Regions from separate parts of the Homo sapiens genome. Here regions 1 and 2 are each linked to region 3. The links come from fine-mapping of genetic effects on gene expression. A gene starts in region 3. Each other region holds a variant in brackets. All regions are shown on one strand. Distances are between the middles of the regions.

Region 1 (6,912 bases), 110 kb before region 3:
GCACAGCCTCAAATAGCTAACCCCCAGCTTACCCTAAAATGTATGAAAACAAATGCTTATTTTACATAACTGAAATTTTGCAGTTGCATGTTACACAGCAAATGCTAACCAATACATACATACCCAATACCCAAGAAGAACATTTTAAGTTCCCTGTGTCCCTGTATGCTCATTCTTGATTCCCCACTCCTTTAATCTATTAGTGTGGTGGGGTATAGTAATCGATTTTCTGTTGTTAAATCATCCTCCATTCATGGAATAAATAAAACTCAAATCACTTTATAAAACATAAAACTCAAAGCTAAATTCAGTTTGAGAATTTTCTAGAAATTTTACATCTTTTGTTCATTAGTGAGATTTTCCTATAATTTTCTTTTCATGTGCTGTCCTCAATTTTAGATAGATTTTGCTAGCCTTATGAAATAAGCTGAAGTGTGCCTCCATCTTCCACACCCCCCACCCAAATTTTCTAGAACAGTTTGAACAAAATAGGAATTAACTGTTTCTTTAATATTTTGGTCGGACTTAGTAGTAAAACCATCTGGACCTGGTGTTTCCTTGTATCAGGTAAATAAATGTAATCTACAATTAACTGGATTCATAGCTGGTCAATTCACCCTTACCCAAAAAGGGTCAAGAAATGGATCAACATTGCTCTGTCCTGTTTGATATTTTTAGGAGTGTCTTGGGTGAAAATATGAGAGAGAATTTATCGTTTATTCAGGTGACAAAAATTTGGTAGAGAAGATCTGCAGTTATGCCTTTAGGGTAAAAAATAAACCAAAATGAATTTGATTCAATTTATTACGATTAAAGCATTGTGGGGATGCTCAGAGGGAACTGTGCTTCCTTCTAGATTTGCATTTATGTTTTTATATTATTGTTTTTGTTTCTTAATCATTGGCTTGGGAGCAATTTGTTTCAATAGGACTTGGAGCCTTTCCCTGACCACAGACTGGGTAGGAGGAGGGTTATATGGGGAATGTTTCAGCTGCTACTATGAATCCCATTTTCAAAGTGAGAGAGGATATAGTTTTTTTTTTTTTGAGACAGTCTCACTCTGTCACCCAGGTTGGAGTACAGCGGCACGATCTCAGCTCACTGCAACCTCCGCTTCTCGGGTTCAAGCGATTCTCGTGTCTCAGCCTCCCAAGTAGCTGGGACTACAGGCACGAGCCGCCACACCTGGCTAATTTTTTATATTTTTTGTAGAGATGGGGTTTTGCCATGTTGGCCAGGCTGGTCTTGAACTCCTCACCTCAGGTGATCTGCCTTCCTCAGCCTCCCAAAGTGCTGGGATTACAGGCATGAGCCACTGCACCCAGCCCAAGGATGTATTCTTGATACCCCCATGTATTCATGCTCTCTTTGGTCCTATCCTTGCAGGTACCACATACCAAGTTCTGAGCACTATGCTTTATATGACAAACCATATAAAGCAGAGGGGGGTAGCCTGGATAATGATGTGTCTAGAGCAGGATTTCTCAGCCTTGGCACTTTTGATGTTTTGGGCCAGAAAATCGTTGTGGGGGTTGTCCTGTGTCTCGTAGGATTCTTAGCAGCATCCTGGCCACCACCCACTAGTTGCCGGTAGCTTCTCCCTTAGATGTAACAACCAAAAATGTCTCTAGATAATGCCAAATGCCTCCTAAGAGGCAAGTTTGCCCCTGGTTGAGAACCACTGGTCTAAAGACCACATTGTAGTAAGAATGGTAAAGGCAGTGAGTGATTTGGGCCAGAGAGGGAGATTCACGGTGAAAACATACCAGTTTGTTTTAGAAACTCTGTTAGAAGTGCTGTTGTGGCCCTCTGGGCGACTATCTTCCAGTCTTCCAACAGGCTAGACAGGAAATTCGCCAGGCTGCTAATCTTCTCTTGCCTACTCCAGATTCCCAGCCATATGAAGACACCCTAGCTGGACGATCAGTTCTTGTTAAGAATCTGACCCCTCAAACTCTACAACCTCGATGGACCAGACCCTCCTTAGTCATCCATAGTACCCCAATTGCAGTCTGCCTGCAGGACCCTCCCCATTGGGTTCACTGTTCCAGAATAAAACTGTGTCCATTGGACAGCCAACCTGATTTCTCCTCTTCCTCCTGGAAGTCACAGGTACTCTCCCCTACTTCCCTTAAACTCACTCGAATTTCTGAAGAACGTAATAACCCTCATGAGCCTAATACATCCCTTCATTCTATTAAGTCTATTCATCCTTACCCTCCTTTTTGCAACAGGGCTTTACGCAGTCACCCCCACTACTTGGACTGCGCCCCAAAAACTTGTCATCCCTACTATCTTCTGTCTAGTCATACTCCTATTCACCATTCTCAACTGCTTATAAATGCCCTGCTCTTGTTTACACTGCCAGTTTACACTGTTTCTCCAAGCCATCACAGCTGATATCTCCTGGTGCTATCCCCAAACTGCCACTCTTAACTCCCTCTTAGAGTGGATAGATGATCTTTGCTGGCAGGGCACCCTCCAATACTTTCACCCTGATAAAGTCCTATTCCTTAGTTTTATACTCTTATTCTCGTTCCCATTCTTATGCTACCCTCTACCTCTCCCCAGCTATCTCCACCATACTATCAATCTCAGTCACTCTTTCCTAGCCGTTTCTAGTCCTTTTTTAACAAACAATTGCTGGCTTTGCATTTCTCTTTCCTCCAGGATCGCCAAGGCCTCGACTTACTCACTGCTAAAAAAGGAGACTCTGTATATTTTTAAATGAAGAGTGTTGTTTTTACCTAAATCAATCTGGCCTGGTATATGACAACATAAAAAACTCAAGGATAGAGCCCAAAAACTAGCCAACCAAGCAAATAATTATGCTGAACCCCCTTGGGCACTCTCTAATTGGATGTCCTGGGTCCTCCCAATTCTTAGTCCTTTAATACCTGTTTTTCTCCTTCTCTTATTCGGACCTTGTGTCTTCCGCTTAGTTTCTCAATTCATACAAAACCGCATACAGGCCATCACCAATAATTCTATATAACAAATGCTCCTTCTAACAACCCCACAATATCACCCCTTACCCCAAAATCTTGCTTCAGTTTAATCTCTCCCACTCTAGGTTCCCATGCCGCCCCTAATCCCGCTTGAAGCAGCCCTGAGAAACATCGCCCATTATCCCCCCAAAATTTTCACCACCTCAACACTTCACCACCATTTTGTTTTGTTTTTCTTATTAATGTAAGAAGACAGGAATGTCAGGCCTCTGAGCCCAAGCTAAGCCATCATATCCCCTATGACCTGCACGTATACATCCAGATGGCCCGAAGCAACTGAAGATCCACAAAAGAAGTGAAAATAGCCTTAACTGATAACATTCCACCATTGTGATTTGTTCCTGCCCCACCCTGATAGACATATTCTCCCCCGCCCTTAAGGTACTTTGTAATATTCTCCCCTCCCCTCCCCCCACTCTTAAGAAGGTACTTTGTACACCTATCCCAAACCTGCAAGAACTAAATGATAATCCCACCACCCTTTGCTGACTCCTTTTTCGGACTCAGCCCGCCTGCATCCAGGTGAAATAAACAGCCTTGTTGCGCACGCACACACACATACACAAAAGTGCTGTTGTGGTGAAGGAGAATCATTCTGTGGGACTCCAAGGGGTAGAACTTAGTTGGAAATTACAAGATGACAACTGTGGAATCT[TAAA/T]AAAAAAAAAAAAAAATTGGCATCTCAGTTATTTCAGCAATAGAATGTGCTGCCTTGCAGAGGCAATAAGTTCCCTGACACTAGCAGTATTCAAGCAGGGACTGACTGTCTACTTGTCAGGGTACTGTAGAGGGAAATTGGAGAGCTTCATATTTCAATCCAAGTAGACTAAACTAGGAGGAAAGAATGGAAGACTTTGGGGCATTTGAGTCTAGAAGTCTTAGTTGTAGCTATGATGAGTAGCATAAGGTACCGGTATGGCTACCCATATCCCCTTAATCTCACTGTTGCTGTACATGATGATGGCTTTTTTCCCCCACTTTTTTTTTTCTTTTTAGGGACAGGGTCTTGCTCTGTTGCCCAGACCAGAGTGCCCTGGCGATTATAATTCACTGCAGTCTTGAACTCCTGGGCTCAAGCAATCCTCTGTCTGAACCTCTCAAGTAGCTGGGACTACAGGTGTGCATCACCATGCCTGGCTATTTTTTTTTTTTCTTGTAGAGACTAGTTTTTGCTATGTTGTCCGGGCTGGTCTGGAACTGTTAGCCTCAAGCTATCTTCCCACCTTGGCTCCCAGAGTGCTGGGATTACAGCCACTATGTAAGCCATTGCACCCAGCCCTGATGGCTTCTACAAGCACCTGGGGGCTTTCTCTGGCTGCAGGAGTGTGTTCAACTAGTACATGAGGCAAATTAGTAGTGGTGGGAGACTATTCCTCTCCAACCCTGAAAAAGTCTTCAACCAATTTTAGATGGGAGTTGGTGGATAAATACCCTAGCTCCCTCACTCCTTATGGGGGATGATTCTGATGTGTGTTCCCCAGAGTCTCCCAAGAGTCTTCGGTAGGAATGAGCCTCAGTTGCCCACAGCTCATTAACACACCCTATATCACCTTTCTTCCCTTTCCTGTCTCACTTCCCTGCTGCCCTATCAGTGCTCCCTAGAATCACTTTCCCAGTAAACTTCTTACATTTGAATCTTTAGCTCAGGATTTTCTACCAAGAGAATCTAAGAGCTATGCAAGACCTAAGCCTATGGACTTGCCTGAGAAAAGGGAAGTAAACTAGAGGGATGGTTGGTATTTCACATTTACAAAACCCCTACCTTGATGTTTGAAGCAAGCAAAACAGGACTTTAGACTGTCACCAAAGAAGATATTTGGAAATGGTAATAAAGAAGTTAAGAGAGAGGATGGGAAGCAGAGGGCTATAGTGCTTCAACTGAAGCAGCCTGCTTTGCACTGCTGCTGCTGGACTGCTGCTGGCAAGGTTTTTTAGCTCTCACTTTATCTTGAACTCTGCAGAGGTCAGAGTCCTAGAATAACTGATTCAGTCATTCTATGAGTCTGTCCTCCAAGGAATTTAGAGACCATTTAGTCAGCAAATATTGATGGAACACCTGTTATATGCCAGGCCCTGGACCAGGCTTTGAGGATGCAGACATGAATAAAATACAGTCCTACTGTTAGGAATTCAAGGTATAGTTAGAGAGACAGACTCACTGATAGACAGTTATAACACAGAGGTCTGGGGAACAGAGGAGGGGCACTAACTCAAGCTGGGAGTTCTTCAGATTCAAATATGGGGAAACTGAGGCCCAGAGAGGGAAAGCTGATGAGATGATATAATTCATGGGCATTGCTATAGACATTAAATATTTCTGGTGATAGTTTGATGCTTTATAATTATCTTTTGCATGAAAGGTAATGGTTCATGACCCTTCTGCCCCCACTTACTCTTGGCTTTGTGGTTACAACTGCTTTTCCTGACACTTATTGCTGGCTTGAACTTTGCCTTTTTGTAACCCCCCCGTGACTGGGATCTTGTGTTCTGAAAGAGCTCAACAGTCTCTACTATTTGTCCCCATCAGTCTGCCCAATCCTATTACCTGAAGCTTCTCCATTTTCCTCCTCTACATCTCAACTCCCTGTAAATTCCAAGATCTTAGGTTTTGACAATTTCCTAACCACCTGACTTGCCTTATGTCCAAGTTCCATTGTGCTTAGCTCTGATACTCAGAGAAATGCCTCCTGTGGCCTGCAGAACAGATGACCTAAAGCTCACAGGCTTGCAACAAAAATGATCTATATGTAAATCCCATCCCAAAACTCTCCCCCAAACTAACTGAAAGTAGTTGGAGAAGAATCTCTTTGCAGGTTGACAATGCACCTGAAGAAAACCATAGGAATTGTGTGTTTTATAAGAGCCTGCTTCCTCATGATTTTGTATGGGAATAAAGTCAGAAGGAAGGCAAGCTTTTGTCCTATAAAGTCCTTGGAAGAAATGGGCCATTTCACTAAAATACATGTACATACATCCAGAGAAGTATATTTCCTGACTCGAAAAATATCGCCTGCTTAGCCACCTCCTTGGAAGCTCCTGCTTCAGCCTTACATTTCTCTTCAACCATTGACCTTCTAGAGTCTTGACTAAACACCAGGGTTTAGGGCCCAAATATATATATATACACACACATATATATATATTTTAACCTTGAGAACCAGTTGAGTCATTCACTATTAACAACAAATTGGGCTCCTAATAATATCTGGCCTTTGTGGAGTGATTAATGTGTGCCAGACACTGTGCTGACCACTTGAAAATTATTATGTACTTTAATTTTCTCAACAACTCTTCAGGAAGGCATGTGAGCAGATTCCATAGTTTGATGTCACACAGCAAGCAACTAGCAGGACCAGGTTTTGAACCCAGGGAGTCTGACTCCAGAGCAGAGCCCAGGAACCCACTATCCTGTCTATTCTATGTGCAGATCAGTTTCAAGGTTCTGGGAAGACAAACAGGTATAAGTTGTGGTCCTCGAGTTCCAGAAAAACTTATGAAATCATGGAGAAGATGAAACAAGAATGCAAAATGAGAAATAATGCCAGAAACTATTGCTAAGTGTCTTATCAGTGGGACAGACAGAGCAGGAACTTACCAGGTAGAGGAAGAGATCAGTGAGGCAGGGGAGGTCTAAACGACTCCACGGAGAAGCATGGTATTTGGCCTTGAAAGATTGAAAGGACTTAGGTAAGCTGAGAGGAAGAAGTCAACCAAGATAAGAGGACTTTGCACACATGGGTTCAAGTCCCAGCTCTGACGTTATCTACACAATCATAGGAAAGTCACTCATTCTCCTTATTGTTCTATTTCCTTTTTGTAAAGAGAGAATCTCAGGGAAGTGGTATGGAGTAAGAGAGAAAGTACAAATTTGGAACCTGGCTTCAGAGAGGTGGGGAGGGAGGAG
Region 2 (6,912 bases), 89 kb before region 3:
AGGGGGTTTTTCTCTTACGGGCAGGGGCGGGGGTCACAAGGTGCTCAGTGGGGGTCACAAGGTGCTCAGTGGCTCTGAGCCAGGAGAAGGAATTTCACAAGGTTAATGGCTCAGTTAAGGTGGGGCAGGAACAAATCACAATGGTGGAATGTCATCACGTAAGGCAAGGAACCAGCCTTTTCACATCTTTTGTGATTCTTCACTTGCTTCAGGCCGTCTGGACGTCTAGGTGCAGGTCACAGGGGATACGATGGGTTAGCTTGGGCTCAGAGGCCTGACAAGTGTAACTATGTGGAAAGGGTGCCATGTATAAGTACTTGCGCTGGCTCCACAACCACCTAAATCAGTTTTACTCATCTGTAAAATGAACCAGTTAGACTTACTGCTTTCTAAAGACTTAAGCTGACTGAAGAAGAGTTTGTTTAAATCCATTTTATTGTTCTAAAACAGTGTTTCCCATCCTCAGCATGAATAACATTTTGGGCCAGATAATTCCTTGTTTGGGGACTGTAAAGTATATTGTCAGATATTTACAAGGGCCCATGGTCTCTACCTATTATATTCCAGGAGCATTTACCCGCTGACTTGTAACGGCAAAGACTATTTTCAGATATCAACAAATTTTTCTCAGGGAGCAAAACTGCCACTGGTTGAGAGCCACCTTCAATAGCTTCTCATTGCCTACAAAAATGCACTCATTTGCTGATTTTTAAATATTATTTATTGAGTACTTACTGGGACAAAATATAGCTAAGACTCAGTCCCTGCTTCAAGGAATTCATATTCTAAGGAGGAGGACAGACGTAATTATAATCTAATATGGCACATATAATGAGTAAGAGAGATGCAGAGGAAAAAGGGAGAAAATCATTGAGGGTGAAGATAGAGGGAGCTCAGAAATCTTTTTGGAGAAACTAGTGACGAAATGGAACATTGAAAGATCAGCAGAAATTAGCCAGGGATTCCCAGCTGAGGGGCTAGCATGAGAAAAAGCAGAGTGGTGAGAAAAACTACCCACAGCCACAGTGCTCTTTGAACCGGGGACTGGTAAGGATGAATCCCTTCAGGGACAAAGAGACCACCTCCACCCCCCAAAACTTAGCCGTGTATTATCTCTTTTAACATCCCATTCTGGGAAAGCAGTTCAGAACCCTAAAGGGTTCCCAGCCAGTGTTACTGCTGAGTCCATAATGGAGCAATACTGTCATGGAGCTCTCCAGGGTGCTGAACTATGTCCATCTGAATCCCTTTTACTCAGTAGCTTTCTACCTGGGCACCTGCCTAGGACCCTGCTCTTCCTACTTATGCTTGCTGCTCTTGGTTGATGTCATATAGTAGAAAGAGCATAGGTTTACCAATCTAAATGAACCTAACTAGGGGAGAATCAAATAAATGATCAATTATTTTTATAAATTATAAATTGTGGTGGATTCCTATGAAAGAATATTACACAATGTTTTGGTGGCCTTATAGTTGTTTTTTAAAAGTTTATTTGAAAATTTATATATTTCCTGTGATACCTATACTAAGTATACATTTCTTGGAAAAAATACTATTTAAAATAATAATAAAGAGCTTTGGAATCAAATAGACTGGGATGAGAATTCTTATTCTGCCACTTAATAGTTGTCTGACCTTGGGTCAGTTAATTTAATCTCTCTGGCCATTGTTTACTCAACTGCAAAATGACTAGAAAAGAGACAGACCTTCAATAATTCCCCAATGCCTACCATGCAGTCCACAGTGGATATTGACCAGCTCAAGTACATGCATCTACTTCTATGTTGCTAAGTAAGGGAGACACTCAGCAAATTCTTGTTTGTTATTACTTACCTCACCATTTGGATGTCCAATTTTCTACTACAGCAAAGGCAATTCTGATGTATAATGAGGTGGAAACAAGCCTTTTAGGCACAGACTGACAGTGCCCTTCCCACCTCCCATTCTTGGGCCCTTCATTAGAAACAGTGCTCTGGAAAAGAACTGACTCTGAATTATAATGCCCATGCCATTTCCACACTTGGCTCCCAGTAAATTAGCATCTAGACCCTTACCCTCATGGCAAGATACTGTAAGACCATTCCTTGGGTAACTAACCATCTGGAGAATAAATACCTAAAGATATTGGGTGTTCTCCAAACAAACAGCGCAGCCAGATAACCCTACTTTGAAGCTAAGTTGACAGGCCTCGCCCACTTGCTGAGAATTTCCTATTAGTTTTTTTTTTTTTTAGCTGTCTATTCGTTATCATGAGCATACAGTCAAGTTTTACATATAAGGAAAAGCTCTAATATGGAAGAAAAAACAATTTGGCAGAAACAAAAACTATGCAGGAAAATTTTATTTCCCAAATAAATTTTATAATCAATATTCATTGAGAAGTAAAAGAAATTCCATGAAACAAGAACAGTATGCTATAAAAAAGGAATACTTAAGGAGATTACAAAGCTCTTAAAAATTAAAAAAAGATAAGGAAAATGAAAAACCCTGAGAAGGAAGAAATATTGAAGAAATATCACCTCATTTCCATCTCCCTCCTCATAAAGAGCAAAAATATACAGAAAGAAACTAAAAGGAAACAGATGAAACTGAATAGAAGACCAGTCACGAAGTTTCAATACTGCAATAATAGAAATTCTAAAAAGAGAGAACAGAGAAAATGGGGAAGGGAAGACCCACTCATGACCTTGTCTACCTATTCCTCCAGGAGAGGCTCTTGTAAACCCTTGGGGAAGATGAAACCAGATTACCCAGACACTCTGTTCAGCTTATCTCTCTCCTGGGCACCTTTATAAAATAGGCAACACTACCCTTTAATTCTCAGCTAGATTTGTGCTTCTACTTAATATACATTGTTATGAGATATATACCTAGGTGGTAAAACTATAACGAAAATCAGGATGGGGCCAAGTGTGGTGGTTAATGCCT[T/G]TAAGCTGAGGTGGGAGGATTACTTGAGCAGCCCAGGAGTTTGAGACCAGCCTGGGCAATATACTTTATAGAGACCTGATCTCTATAAAATTTTTTTTTAAAGTTATCTGGGTGTAGCGCTGTGCAACTGTAGTCCCAGCTACTTGGGAGCCTGAGGTGAGAGGATCGATTGAGCCTGGGAGGTTGAGGCTACAGTGAGCTGCGGTCATGCCACTGCCCTCTGGGCTGGGCAACGGAGTGAGACCTTGTGTCAACAACAAGAAAAAATAATCAAGATAAACATGAGCACAAAAATCAAGACAGTGTTTACCTCTGGGGAGGAAGCTGGAGGTTTTATTTAGAAAGGGGCATTTGGAGGACTTCTAAGGTTAGTGTTCTAAGGTTAGTGTTCACTTTCTTAACTTTTGTAGTAAATACATAGGTATTAAATGTACTATATTTTAAACTCTACATATATCTCAAATACTCTTTTATACATACGATACACTTCACAATAAAAACTTCCATACCAAGAAGACACCAAAACAAACCTACCTTGTGAAGTAATAAGATTATATGTTCCCATGTACTGTGTAGTCTTTGAACAGAGGGAAATAGGAAAGGGGGTGCAAGAGCTCTCCCTCTTCTAGAGGCCTAATCAGGGGTGGCAGTAATCACAATAAAATACCCGACCAGCAGCACAATGCTGATTTTCAGACCTGTTTAATAGATACATTTTACAGTGGTTAGAATCCTATTGTAATAGCCTGGAGTCCATGAAAAACAGCTCTGCTGAGACCGGCAGTTAAAAACCATCCCCTAAGCTGTTAGTGAGAGGGTAGGTGGCTGTGTATTCTTTCTTTGCCCACTCTGATCCATTCTCTGCCCTTTCCACCTTGCTCTCTGCCCCAGGGGCTGACTTCTATGCACATCACCCACGGTCCTCTGTTCCTTGACTATCTGGGTTTTGCCAGTGGGAGGCACTGGCAGGAAATCAGAGGGGAGAAGGAAAGAGAAGTGAAGGGTATTTCCTCCCCTCTGCCTCATCATCCCTTGTTGTTTCTCTTAACCCCATACAGCCCGCCAAAAATAGTCCCTTATTACATTATTTTCAGTTAAATCCTTTTCATTATGTCTTTCGTATCTTGCCAGGACCCTGGCTGCTACATTATTTTAGTAGTTATATGTCCCTGCCCAGTGATCCTTTTTTATGTTAATGTGGATTTTGAGGTCCAAACTAGTCTTTAGAATTCCAAATAAGTACCTCTACTGGGGTGGCATTGCAGGCAGTATTCCAGAGACGTTCCCATGTGTGCTCTCAAATCAGACTGTGCAGTTGTGTTGTCTCCACAAGCAGCCTTGTCCAAGGGAAGATATGCATCTAAAAGCATCTCCCTCCAATGGGTGTCTGCAGCGCTAGCTTTTTCTGGAAAGGGTACACATTGGTTTAATACTTGATGAATTATACTGCTAGCTAAGGATGGAAAGGTCTGGGAGGATTTGCCTCTGGCTTGTGGAATTTGAATTCTGTCCCTGTCTCCACCCAGGCACTGGCAGGGATGCACAGTTCTCACCAGCATCCTTGCTGGTTTCTTTAAGAGATGACCTTTTCGTTTCCTATCATGGAATGAGTCGTCACTCATTCCACTCTTAGCATCTCTCATCATCTTCCTGTGGCCCTTCCCTTCTGAAGATCAAAGCTCATCTCAGGAGAAACTCCAGAGGGAAAAATAGCCAACAGAACCTCAGGCCCAGGCAGGAAAAGCAAGTAAACAAGTGATTGACGCACTTTGTACACAGGCTCTGAGGGAGGGGGGTGAGTGTGAGGAGGGGAAGTTGAGGAAGCTGTCCAGGATGGGGGCGGAGTCCCGGAGGGCTTGGGTAACAGCTCATTGTTCCTCAGGGCTCCTAGGGAATAAGGTAGGGCTCCAGCAAAACAAATGTGCCAGGAGGACAGGCTATTTGTGTTGATAAACACAAAAAGAGGGAAGTGACTAGATGGAGGGAGGGTGCGTTTGAATGGAATGTGCCTGATTCTGGGAATCTGTACACTTGGCTCCTAGGGGACATGGGAGGAAGAGGGAGAAGGCACTGGGACAAAAGGAGACAGCATTGAGTACCGTTAAACATGCAGGACTGAGAGGTGGGCAGAGCTGGGTTCAAATCCTGGGCCCTCGCTTTCCTAGCTATGTAACTTGGACCTATTGTTTGATTTCTCCGGGCCTCGGTTTCATTATGTGTGAAATGGGAATGGTTCTTTCTCACCCTTAGGTTTCCTTGAAGACTTAGTAAGACAATGTACTTTAGGTGTCTGACACATGGAAATTTCCCCCCAAAAAAGTTTATTGTTGTTAGAAAGATGTTGTATCAGCGAGGGAGGAAGCGGTGTGCTGTGGGGAGGCAGCACTGCATTGTCAAGTTCCTGGGTTGAGTGAAGGCTCTGCCCCTAGCCATTGTGGGCGCCTGAGCAGGTACTCATCTCATCTCAGCTCATCTCCGGAGCTGAGGGTGCCTCCCGGGAATGACGGTGCTGAACAAGCGGATCTCCAGGGTTCATTCTAGTGCCTAAAGCCTGGGTTCTAAAGAACTATAACCAAAGCATGACTAGGAAATTCTCTGATTTAAAACAAAAATAATGCAGACACAGCCAAGTGAGGTTTGTGCCCATTAGAGAAGTCTCTTTGGAAATTTTACTCTTATGATAGTGGTGCTGCCGTTTCTCCAAACATATTCAGAATGGTTTAGAATTATCTGCAGAGCCAGTTCTGGGACCACATAAGACAATCATCTCATCGCTTTAGAGGAAACAAATGTCTTCTTTCTTTTTGTTTATTTTTATTTTTTATTTTTATCCAAAAAAAGGCTCTCATTCCCTTAAGGCAAGTTAGATTCCAGTTTCAGTTTTGTGAACTACTGGAGGATTGTAACTTCATCTCTTTTATCCTTAATTTCTACCTATAGAAATTGGGAATAATAATATCCACCTCAGAGCGTGGACACAGATAAGACAAGGACGCAGAAAGCAGTACCAAGCAAGATGCTGGGCTCAGGGTAGGTGGTAAAACACATGCATATGGGCCAGGCGTGGTTGCTTACGCCTGTAATCCCAGCACTGTGGGAGGCCGAGGCAGGCAGATCACGAGGTCAAGAGATGGAGACCATCCTGGCCAAAATGGTGAAACCCCGTCTCTACTAAAAATACAAAAATTAACTGGGCATGGTGGCGCACATGTAGTCCCAGCTACTCACGAGGCTGAGGCAGGAGAATTGCATGAACCCAGGAGGTAGAGGTTACAGCGAGCTGAGATCACGCCACTGCACTCCAGCCTGGTGACGGAATGAGATTCTGTCTCAAAAAAAAAAAAAAAAAAAAAAAAAGGCGTATGTGCATACGCGCAGACAGACAGACAGACAGACAGACCTTTATCCTTTCATTCCTTCCACATCCCAATTACCTATTTTACCACTTTATCTGCAGAATAAATTCACAGCCCACTAAACTATCAGGCTCCAAATAATTTTCATTCATTTTGAAAAATCAAATATACTTTCAGAGGAAAAGATTTGCCACCATGAAGGATATTCAAAGGGATGTGCCCAGACTCTAAAGATATCTATTTACACCATTTATATGTGTGTGTGTGTTTGTGTACAGTTGGTATTTAGTAAAATCCTTAGCCCCTCTGAATCCCGCAGACAGATCCACAGCCGGTGCTGTGATGCTGAGCCAAGATTCAGGATGATGGACAGGGGCAGGGAAAGATTGAGGACCAGGATTCACTTTGGAGCCAGCCAGACCTGGCCCCCAGGCTCAGGGAAACCCACTTTGGCTGGGTGACCTCCATCAGTCACATCATCCTTTGAAGTCTCAGTTTATTCATCAGGAAAATGAGGACAATAACATAAGTCTCATAAAGTTTGAGGATCGTTAAGTGTTAACTTCATAAACAAGCAAAGAAGAGGCACCAGTGGCTGGGAACGTTAATTCTAATTAAGGCATAAGGC
Region 3 (6,912 bases):
TTATTCAAAGTGGTCTGGTGCACGGTGGGCTCTCAAATCCTTCCTGTTTCTGATCACTGCCCACCAGAGGCAGAAGGTTGAGAAGGGCTGTCCTTCCTCCCCTTCAATCACACCCCCACTGTTTTTGGTGGGACAGGGGTTGGGGACTTCCAAAATGAGAAGCGCAGAGGGGTGGACTGATGTATTACTTCAGTAACAGAGGTGCTGGGTCAGCCAGGCAACAACACAGGAGACGCCTGTATGCCATTACCTGTGCTAGGGGAAATAGAAAATAGAATTTTCCAGCAGATCAGGGTCCAGCTGAACCAATTTCCTAAGCTCAGTTACAGAGCAACAATCTTCACAGGCCCAAGAGGGAGGTGCAAGCTCCTGGGGCAGACTGCCTGGTCATTGCCCCTCCCCGTCCCGCCCCATAGGCTGTGCCTCCTGTGGTGTCCCTGTGGCCATTCTATCTTCTCTGGGCTTCAGCTTGCTTACTTGAATACATACTGTAAAGAGTACCTGAAATAAGGCAGGTAGGTAAAGCTGCCTTCCTCAATAAATGCTAAGGTCAGGAGACCTGTTCACTTTTTATAGACATCTTGCCTAATGTTTCTACTCTATTGGAGCCTCACCAAACACTCATTTTGCAGATGAGGAAAGGAAGGCAAAGTTAAGTTACATGGCTTGATGGGTAAATGGCCGAGCCAGATGGCAAAACCAGCCTGTGCCCTCTCTCATAAAATGAGGATAATAGCACCCACAATGCCCAACACAGAGTAGGTGTGCTGTAAATGTTAACTTCCCTTGTGTGAGTCTGCAATTTAGGAAGAGGTTGGGAGAATGAGTCACCAAAGATCTTGCTTGAGAGCAAGGGTTCAAGATGGTTCTGAAGACAGGAAAGAGGACGATCACGTGGTCCCAGGCTGGCGGGTCACTGAGCACTTGAAAGTCAGCCTGCACCTCACTTCAACCACAGCGGAGGGAAGGAAGTATCTGACAATTCGGGGGGTATTTCTAAAGAAAGTTGACTTAACTCCCTTTCTCACACATTTGAAAGAGCACACACAACTTTCAGGGTAAGAGAAACCCCAACTCAGACTGCACCCCATCTCTTCCAACAATCTTTGTCCCACCCCTGGTTGTACCCCAGGAATTCCTAGCTAGGGGCTCCTTCATGATTCCAAGGTGATTCAGAACCAGCTAAAACACAGAGCGTCAGGTGGAAAATGCCCAAGCAGCCAGATGGGAAAGAAGATTTTTGAGTTTTCATTTTTCCTTAAACCAATATCCTGAGGCCTGAGGCAGTACCCCAAGTCACAAGAAAGCAGAGCAAGGCAGATTTCTGCAGATTAAAACTGATGTCAGCAAATGCTTCTACTTGTCCATTTTCATTTCTTGGGGTTTTTCCTATGACGGGAAGGGACTCGCCCAGTTGGGGTTGGTTTGGGAGTTTCTTTGGCCGGGGATGAGGACAGGGCTGTCCTTGTTCAAGAACTTATCTATAATAGCCTCCAAAGCAGACTGGCTTGATGCCCAAGTCCTTTTTCTAAAAATTACCTGCCCATTACTTTTTTTTGGTAGGGGGGTAAATGTTGACAGATTTAACAGGACTGCTAAATAAGAGGCATTTTGTTTGTTCAAATACCTTAAGAAGCCGTCTAGCCTCCAAAGCTATGACCACCAGCTGCACCCGGCTGCCTAACCCCTGGACCCCGCCCCCCCCGCCGTATGCCCCGCCAGCCTTTCCCTTTGCCTTGTGTTTTGAAGTTTATTTTCCCACATTTAGCCTTGAATTCTTTCCTTCCTTCCCCTGCAGTGTTGGAGCAACAGCTTAGAGGGAAACACTTCGAGGGCAGCTCAAGGCTTTATCATCCTTGCCTGCCCTCTTCCCCCTCTAAACAAAGCCCTGGAACAAACTAAACAAAAACTTGTTCTCTAGAGGAATTGTTTCCTCAAGGGAAATCATAAAGCAACCCCCTCCCCACAACACACCCCCCAGGGTAGACGCCCATCAGAAGGAAGCCATGTAGACTCTTCATGCCAGGACTCTTGCTGTTAGGAGGTAAACCAACCAACCATCTACTGAAGCTTATCCTCCCCACCATCACCTCCCATCTGCCTCTACCCGGGAAACTGCTACAGGGCAAGAGACTCTCCACTAAAATCCAACACTAAGCCTGCTAGACTAAACCTCCCCTTCTACAGGACCCCTTGGAGGACAAGTCTCCCCACACACGGCTGCCAGCAAATACGTATATGCTTATCTGTGTGATGTCCATCAATCTGGGGACAAGATTTTGATGTTTTCCAAATGCTTCCAACCTAACAGTCCGTGGCAGAAATAAGGAATGAGGATGGGCTCATTCCCGTTTCTCACATGGGGAAACGGAGGCTGGAAAATGAGCGACGACTAGATAGGCATAAAGTATTGAGGTGCTGCTGTAGACTAAACGTTGCTTCTCATCAGACCTCCTTTCTGGCATCTTTCACCCTGAGAGCAAGGTAACACCCTGGACAATCTACCCCTACTCCCTACCTGCTGCAATCTAGAACTTTCACCCAGGTCCTGGTCATTCCACTGGGGGAGCAGGCCAAGAAGAGTTGATGGTTGAAGCTGAGCCCTCGAGAAACTGGGGTAGAGGGCCTCGGTCCCCAAATGGGCCCCAAGGTCTCAGCCAGGATAGGCAGCCCGTTTATCCAAAGTGAGGTCAATGCCACCCATCGGGCTGTGCACCAGAAAATAAGCGGTTCCCAATGTCAGCACGGAGGGAAGTCCCCCACCCACCCCAATTCCGCACACACTCTCCTCCCCCATCATAAAGGGACTACGCGGGTATTATTCGTTTGTGCAACCTGCTACTTTCACAAAGTTTTACTCCAAGCCCTTGAAGGATGTCTCCGCGAGATAAGCCTTCCCGGAAGCCTGAGCGCGTCCCCAGCATTCCAGGCACCAGCCCTCATCCCGTGGGTTCGGGCCCCACAGAGCCTCCAGCTCCTCTCCGGAACTCTGCTGGGGGCGGAAGATTTTGCCCAGGCTCGGGCTGAGGGACCCTCCCGCCACTCTGCCGGGTTCACGTTCCTTAAGAAAAGCCTGGCAGGCGTGGCACTGGCCCTGGAGCGGGGAGGTGGAGACACGAGGGGATGGCACCAGGCTTGGCTCCCAGACTCCGGGAGCGTCTCCAGGGAAAGATAAACGCCTTTATCCGTCCCACAGCCTCTTCCCAAGGAGGGAGGTACCGTCACACCCACACTGAAACACCGTGGAGCCTAGTTCACCCGGGAATCAACTCCAATTTGTCTCCGGCCAAACTAAGTTCCAAAGAGTCTCCGCGCCTGGGGGACCCCTGTGTCCCTCGGGTGAGCGACAGATCCTCGAAGCCTGACCCATGATGAGACACGCTCTCTCATCACCCCCTGGACCTTCCACAGGGACTGAGGGTCACCCAAAGCTGTGAAGGGGTCTTCCTTTCAGCGCCCCCTAAAGCTCAAGCCAGCTTCAGATGTATATGGGGGTACAGGCGGCGACTGACCTCTAGGATCTTGTCCAGGCCCTCCTGACCCAGGCACGGGAACTCCTTGAGCAGATGCAGCTTCTGTGTGTAGTAGTTTTTCTTGGCCTCCTTCCAGTGTGGCTCCTCCAGCACTTCGAAGATCGCCGCCCCGATGGCCAGGTAGAAGATGATGGCCGAGGTGAGCAGAGGGCCCCGGTCCACCATGGCTCCCGAGCGGCCGCCTCCTAGAGAAAGCCTCTCCTAGCCCCAGCTGCTACCAGTCCGCCCGCCCTCCAGCCTCTGAAAACAGCTGTTTGAATTTGGAGCTCCGCATGCGCAGTGCCCGGTACTCACCCCCCGCAAGCACCGCTCCCCGGACAGAGTTGCTTGGCCAAGTTGGCCCACGGAGTGCGGGGAGCTGCGTGGGGCCCCACTCACGCGGCCCGGGGTGGGCGAACACCAGCGGGGCTGAAAGGGCGCCCTGGACCGCGGATGCGTAAGGAGCGGGAAGAACACAGGACTTGACTCTGGGCAGACACGTGGGCCGCTTCTCCACGCGTCGCTCCTCCGCGCGCCACTAGCAGTATGCGCCGCGCCCGCCTCCGCACGCCTCTTTAACCAGCGCCCGGCGCGCTCTGCCCCCTTGCTCCGGGCTCCGACCGGGGAGGAGCCCAGGCGGGCCCCGCCCCTTCCCCGCACAAGCAGCCCGGCGAGCGCAGGAGTGAGCGCGAGGTGAGCGCTAGAAGAGGCTTGGCGCTCCCCGCGCTCCCAGGGTCAGCCGCCAGGGGAGGCTGCGCCGCCCGCCCAGACCTGCACGCCCTGCGGTGCCCGAGGGGTTGCGGTCTCAGGGACTCGTGTTTGTTATTAGGACTGGCGTGTTAACTAAAATGATTGTGACTGAGGTCAGGAGTTTATTGCTTTTGTTATTTTTATTGTAATTCCATTTTCATTTACTGATGTTTCTTCCAAAAAAGTCTAATGCTCAGTCTCTCCGTGTCTCTCTTCCACACACTTTCTTGTAAGCCTGAGGAAGGGGGTTAGAACGGGGCTGAAGAAGCTGTAGGGAATCAGAGGACATCAGGAACTAATCCAGCCACCCACGCGTGATTCCTCCCCCTCACCCCGTTCTCACCTACCCGGGTGAGAACCCTGCATCTGGAAGGAGTGGGCAGCTCAATTCGTGGCACCCCTGTGCGCCCCCCCAATACACAGTATCTCTACGGGAAACACTTGGCCTCTTTTCTTTTTTTCTTTTCTCTTTTCTTTTCTCTTCTCCTTTCCTCTCCTTTCCTCTTTTCTTTCAGACGGAGTCTCACTCTGTCGCCAGGCTGGAGTGCAGTGGCACTATCTCGGCTCACTGCAACCCCCGCCTCCCGAGTTCAAGCAGTTCTTCTGCCTCAGCCTCTCAAGAAGCTGGGACTACAGGCGCACGCCATCACGCCCAGCTAATTTTTGTATTTTTAGTAGAGACGGGGTTTCACCGTGTTGGCCAGGCTGGTCTCAATTCCTGACCTCAGGTGATCCGCCCGCCTCAGCCTCCCAAAGTGCTGGGATTACAGGCGTGAGCCACCGCGCCCGGCCCACTTTCATACATATGCTCCAGCTGATTTAAAATTCCACCCCCGCCACCTTATCTCCCTCGTTGGCTTTATGTCCTTCCTAGTACTAAATTCCCTCTGCTATATTATATAACTTTATTTATTGTTTACTCTGTATTGTGCCCTCTCCCCGCCACACACACACAGACACACACACACACACACACACACACACACACACACGGAAATGTCTGCTGGGGAGATGGAGAATCTGTCTTGTGTAATGATGTATCCACAGTGCTTGTTACATACATAGCAGACACTCAATAACCATGTGTGCAATGAAGGAGTGAATGAATTTGTTAAAAACAGGTGCCCAGGATGTTTCTAACTCGCCTTGCTGCCATTCTCTGAGCTCTTGTAAACCCCAGGAAGTACTGAATCCCTTCCATGCATCATAAGCAGGCCCTGTCATTCGACCCACTTTGCAGTGAGGAAAAAAGCTCAGTGGGTTAGTTTGTTCAGTCTTTCAACCAGCACCAGTCAGAAGTTGGAGGGGGAACCTCCTTTCAGTGCTCTGTACCAGGGGCTGGCCCTGCCCTTCTCTGGCCTCTGTAGGGGCAGGTACTGGAGTGGCCAGAGTCCCTGAGCACTGTCCCCTGGCCAAGGCCTTTTCTTTCCATCGAGAAGAAGGGGAGTCATTTCTCACCTCCTACCCACCCTGTACCCAGGCTGTGGCCTGAACCCCAAGGTGTCAAGAGACACTTTACTTGGGGAGGGGGGTATCTGTACTATCTCCAAATCTGGCTGGAATGGAGGGGTTAGGGATACAGTTGGAAGCATTGATCTGATTTTGCTGATGTTTCTGTCTCTCCTTATGGCAACATGAGCGTGTCCAGAGAAGAAGACCAGAGCAGGAAGCTGGGGAGCCCCAGATTTCCTGATACTGCATCCCTGAGGTGTGCAGTGCCAGTCCCCTCAGGACCCCCCTGGCCAAGGATCATCCTGGACAAGGCCCTGGGGGTGCTTCTCTGTAGACAACCCACTCCCAGCACCAGGCCTCTCACCCAACCCAACATATCCATCTTCTCTAAGCCTTGCTGACCTCCTGCCTACCCTGTCCCCCAGGCTGTGGCCTGAACCCTAGCTCTGCAGTCTCATTCTCCAGCCCTCCAGCTGGGATGGAAACCAAGCATGGGTTCCGGATCCCCCCTCTCTGGATGGAGTTCACCCTGTTTGTGAAGAGTTCAGGGCTGCAGTGTGAACGCTTCAGTGAGCATGGGGTGGGGGCAGTTTGAGAGGCCACAGGCCCTCTCTTTGTTTGGAAAATTCCCTACCATTCCTCTCCCACCTCCGGTCTGTGTTCTCTTCCTAAGAAAATAAAGGGCCTCTTCCTATTTCGGTCTCACAGCCTCATGAAAATGCTGAACACTTTGAGATGAATTGATTTTTATTCGAGGCCTCTGTATGTTGTAGTTTCTTTGTCCTTCCACTCTGTTTCTGCATTTCCTGTCCCCTTCTTCCTTCTTGCTCTCCATGTGGTGCTGACTGACTCCTCATCCTCTCCTTCTGTCGCCGCATCCTTTGCTTTCCTGTATTTTTCCAAAGCTCCTTCCCCAGCTCTTCATTCTCCCTCCTCCTGCCTCTCTCCTTTGTCTCCATCCCAGTTGAATGTGCTTCCCCTCCCCCAACTTCCCCTCCCCTCCCCATCTCCCCACTCCCCTCTCCAACTCCCCTGCCCCAGCCAGATAGTTGGATCAACTTGACCTTCTGTAGATCAGGGGCACACACCTGCTCTCTGCACAGCAGCCAGTGGGGGCTTTTATAAAATGTAAACTGTGCTGAAACTATCGAATATTTAGACAACACGAGCCTTAAGATTGGAAAAGGGAAAAGTGGGT

Alleles and levels. Positions count from the first base shown, and alleles are read on the strand shown. Sizes are in standard deviations (SD) of each study's normalised expression. Not every link is listed here.
For the expression in activated CD8 T cells of the gene that starts at base 4,062 in region 3, allele T in region 1 goes with a lower level than allele TAAA (moderate effect, 0.59 SD a copy in Schmiedel 2018).

Evidence for each region. PIP is the estimated chance that this variant, and not a neighbour inherited with it, causes the effect. A credible set is the group of variants that fine-mapping cannot tell apart.
Region 1: its variant is the best candidate, but not a certain one, in a credible set for the expression of KCNK5 in activated CD8 T cells (Schmiedel 2018, PIP 0.87).
Region 2: its variant is the best candidate, but not a certain one, in a credible set for the expression of KCNK5 in whole blood (INTERVAL, PIP 0.53).

The regions. Positions count from the first base shown.
Region 1 is chr6:39,119,328-39,126,239 of GRCh38, forward strand. No RefSeq gene overlaps it. Among named protein-coding and RNA genes, the nearest start is that of SAYSD1, 7.6 kb to the left of the region's middle. The variant TAAA/T (reference allele first, on the strand shown) is at 3,664.
Region 2 is chr6:39,136,241-39,143,152 of GRCh38, forward strand. No RefSeq gene overlaps it. Among named protein-coding and RNA genes, the nearest start is that of SAYSD1, 25 kb to the left of the region's middle. RefSeq lists a silencer at 1,110-1,310. The variant T/G (reference allele first, on the strand shown) is at 2,929.
Region 3 is chr6:39,225,414-39,232,325 of GRCh38, forward strand. It overlaps KCNK5 (potassium two pore domain channel subfamily K member 5), which reads right to left and starts at 4,062. Exons shown (of 5, transcript NM_003740.4): 1 at 3,513-4,062. The coding sequence starts at 3,698. RefSeq lists enhancers at 260-554, 4,640-5,367 and silencers at 2,740-2,809, 3,823-3,902, 4,003-4,352.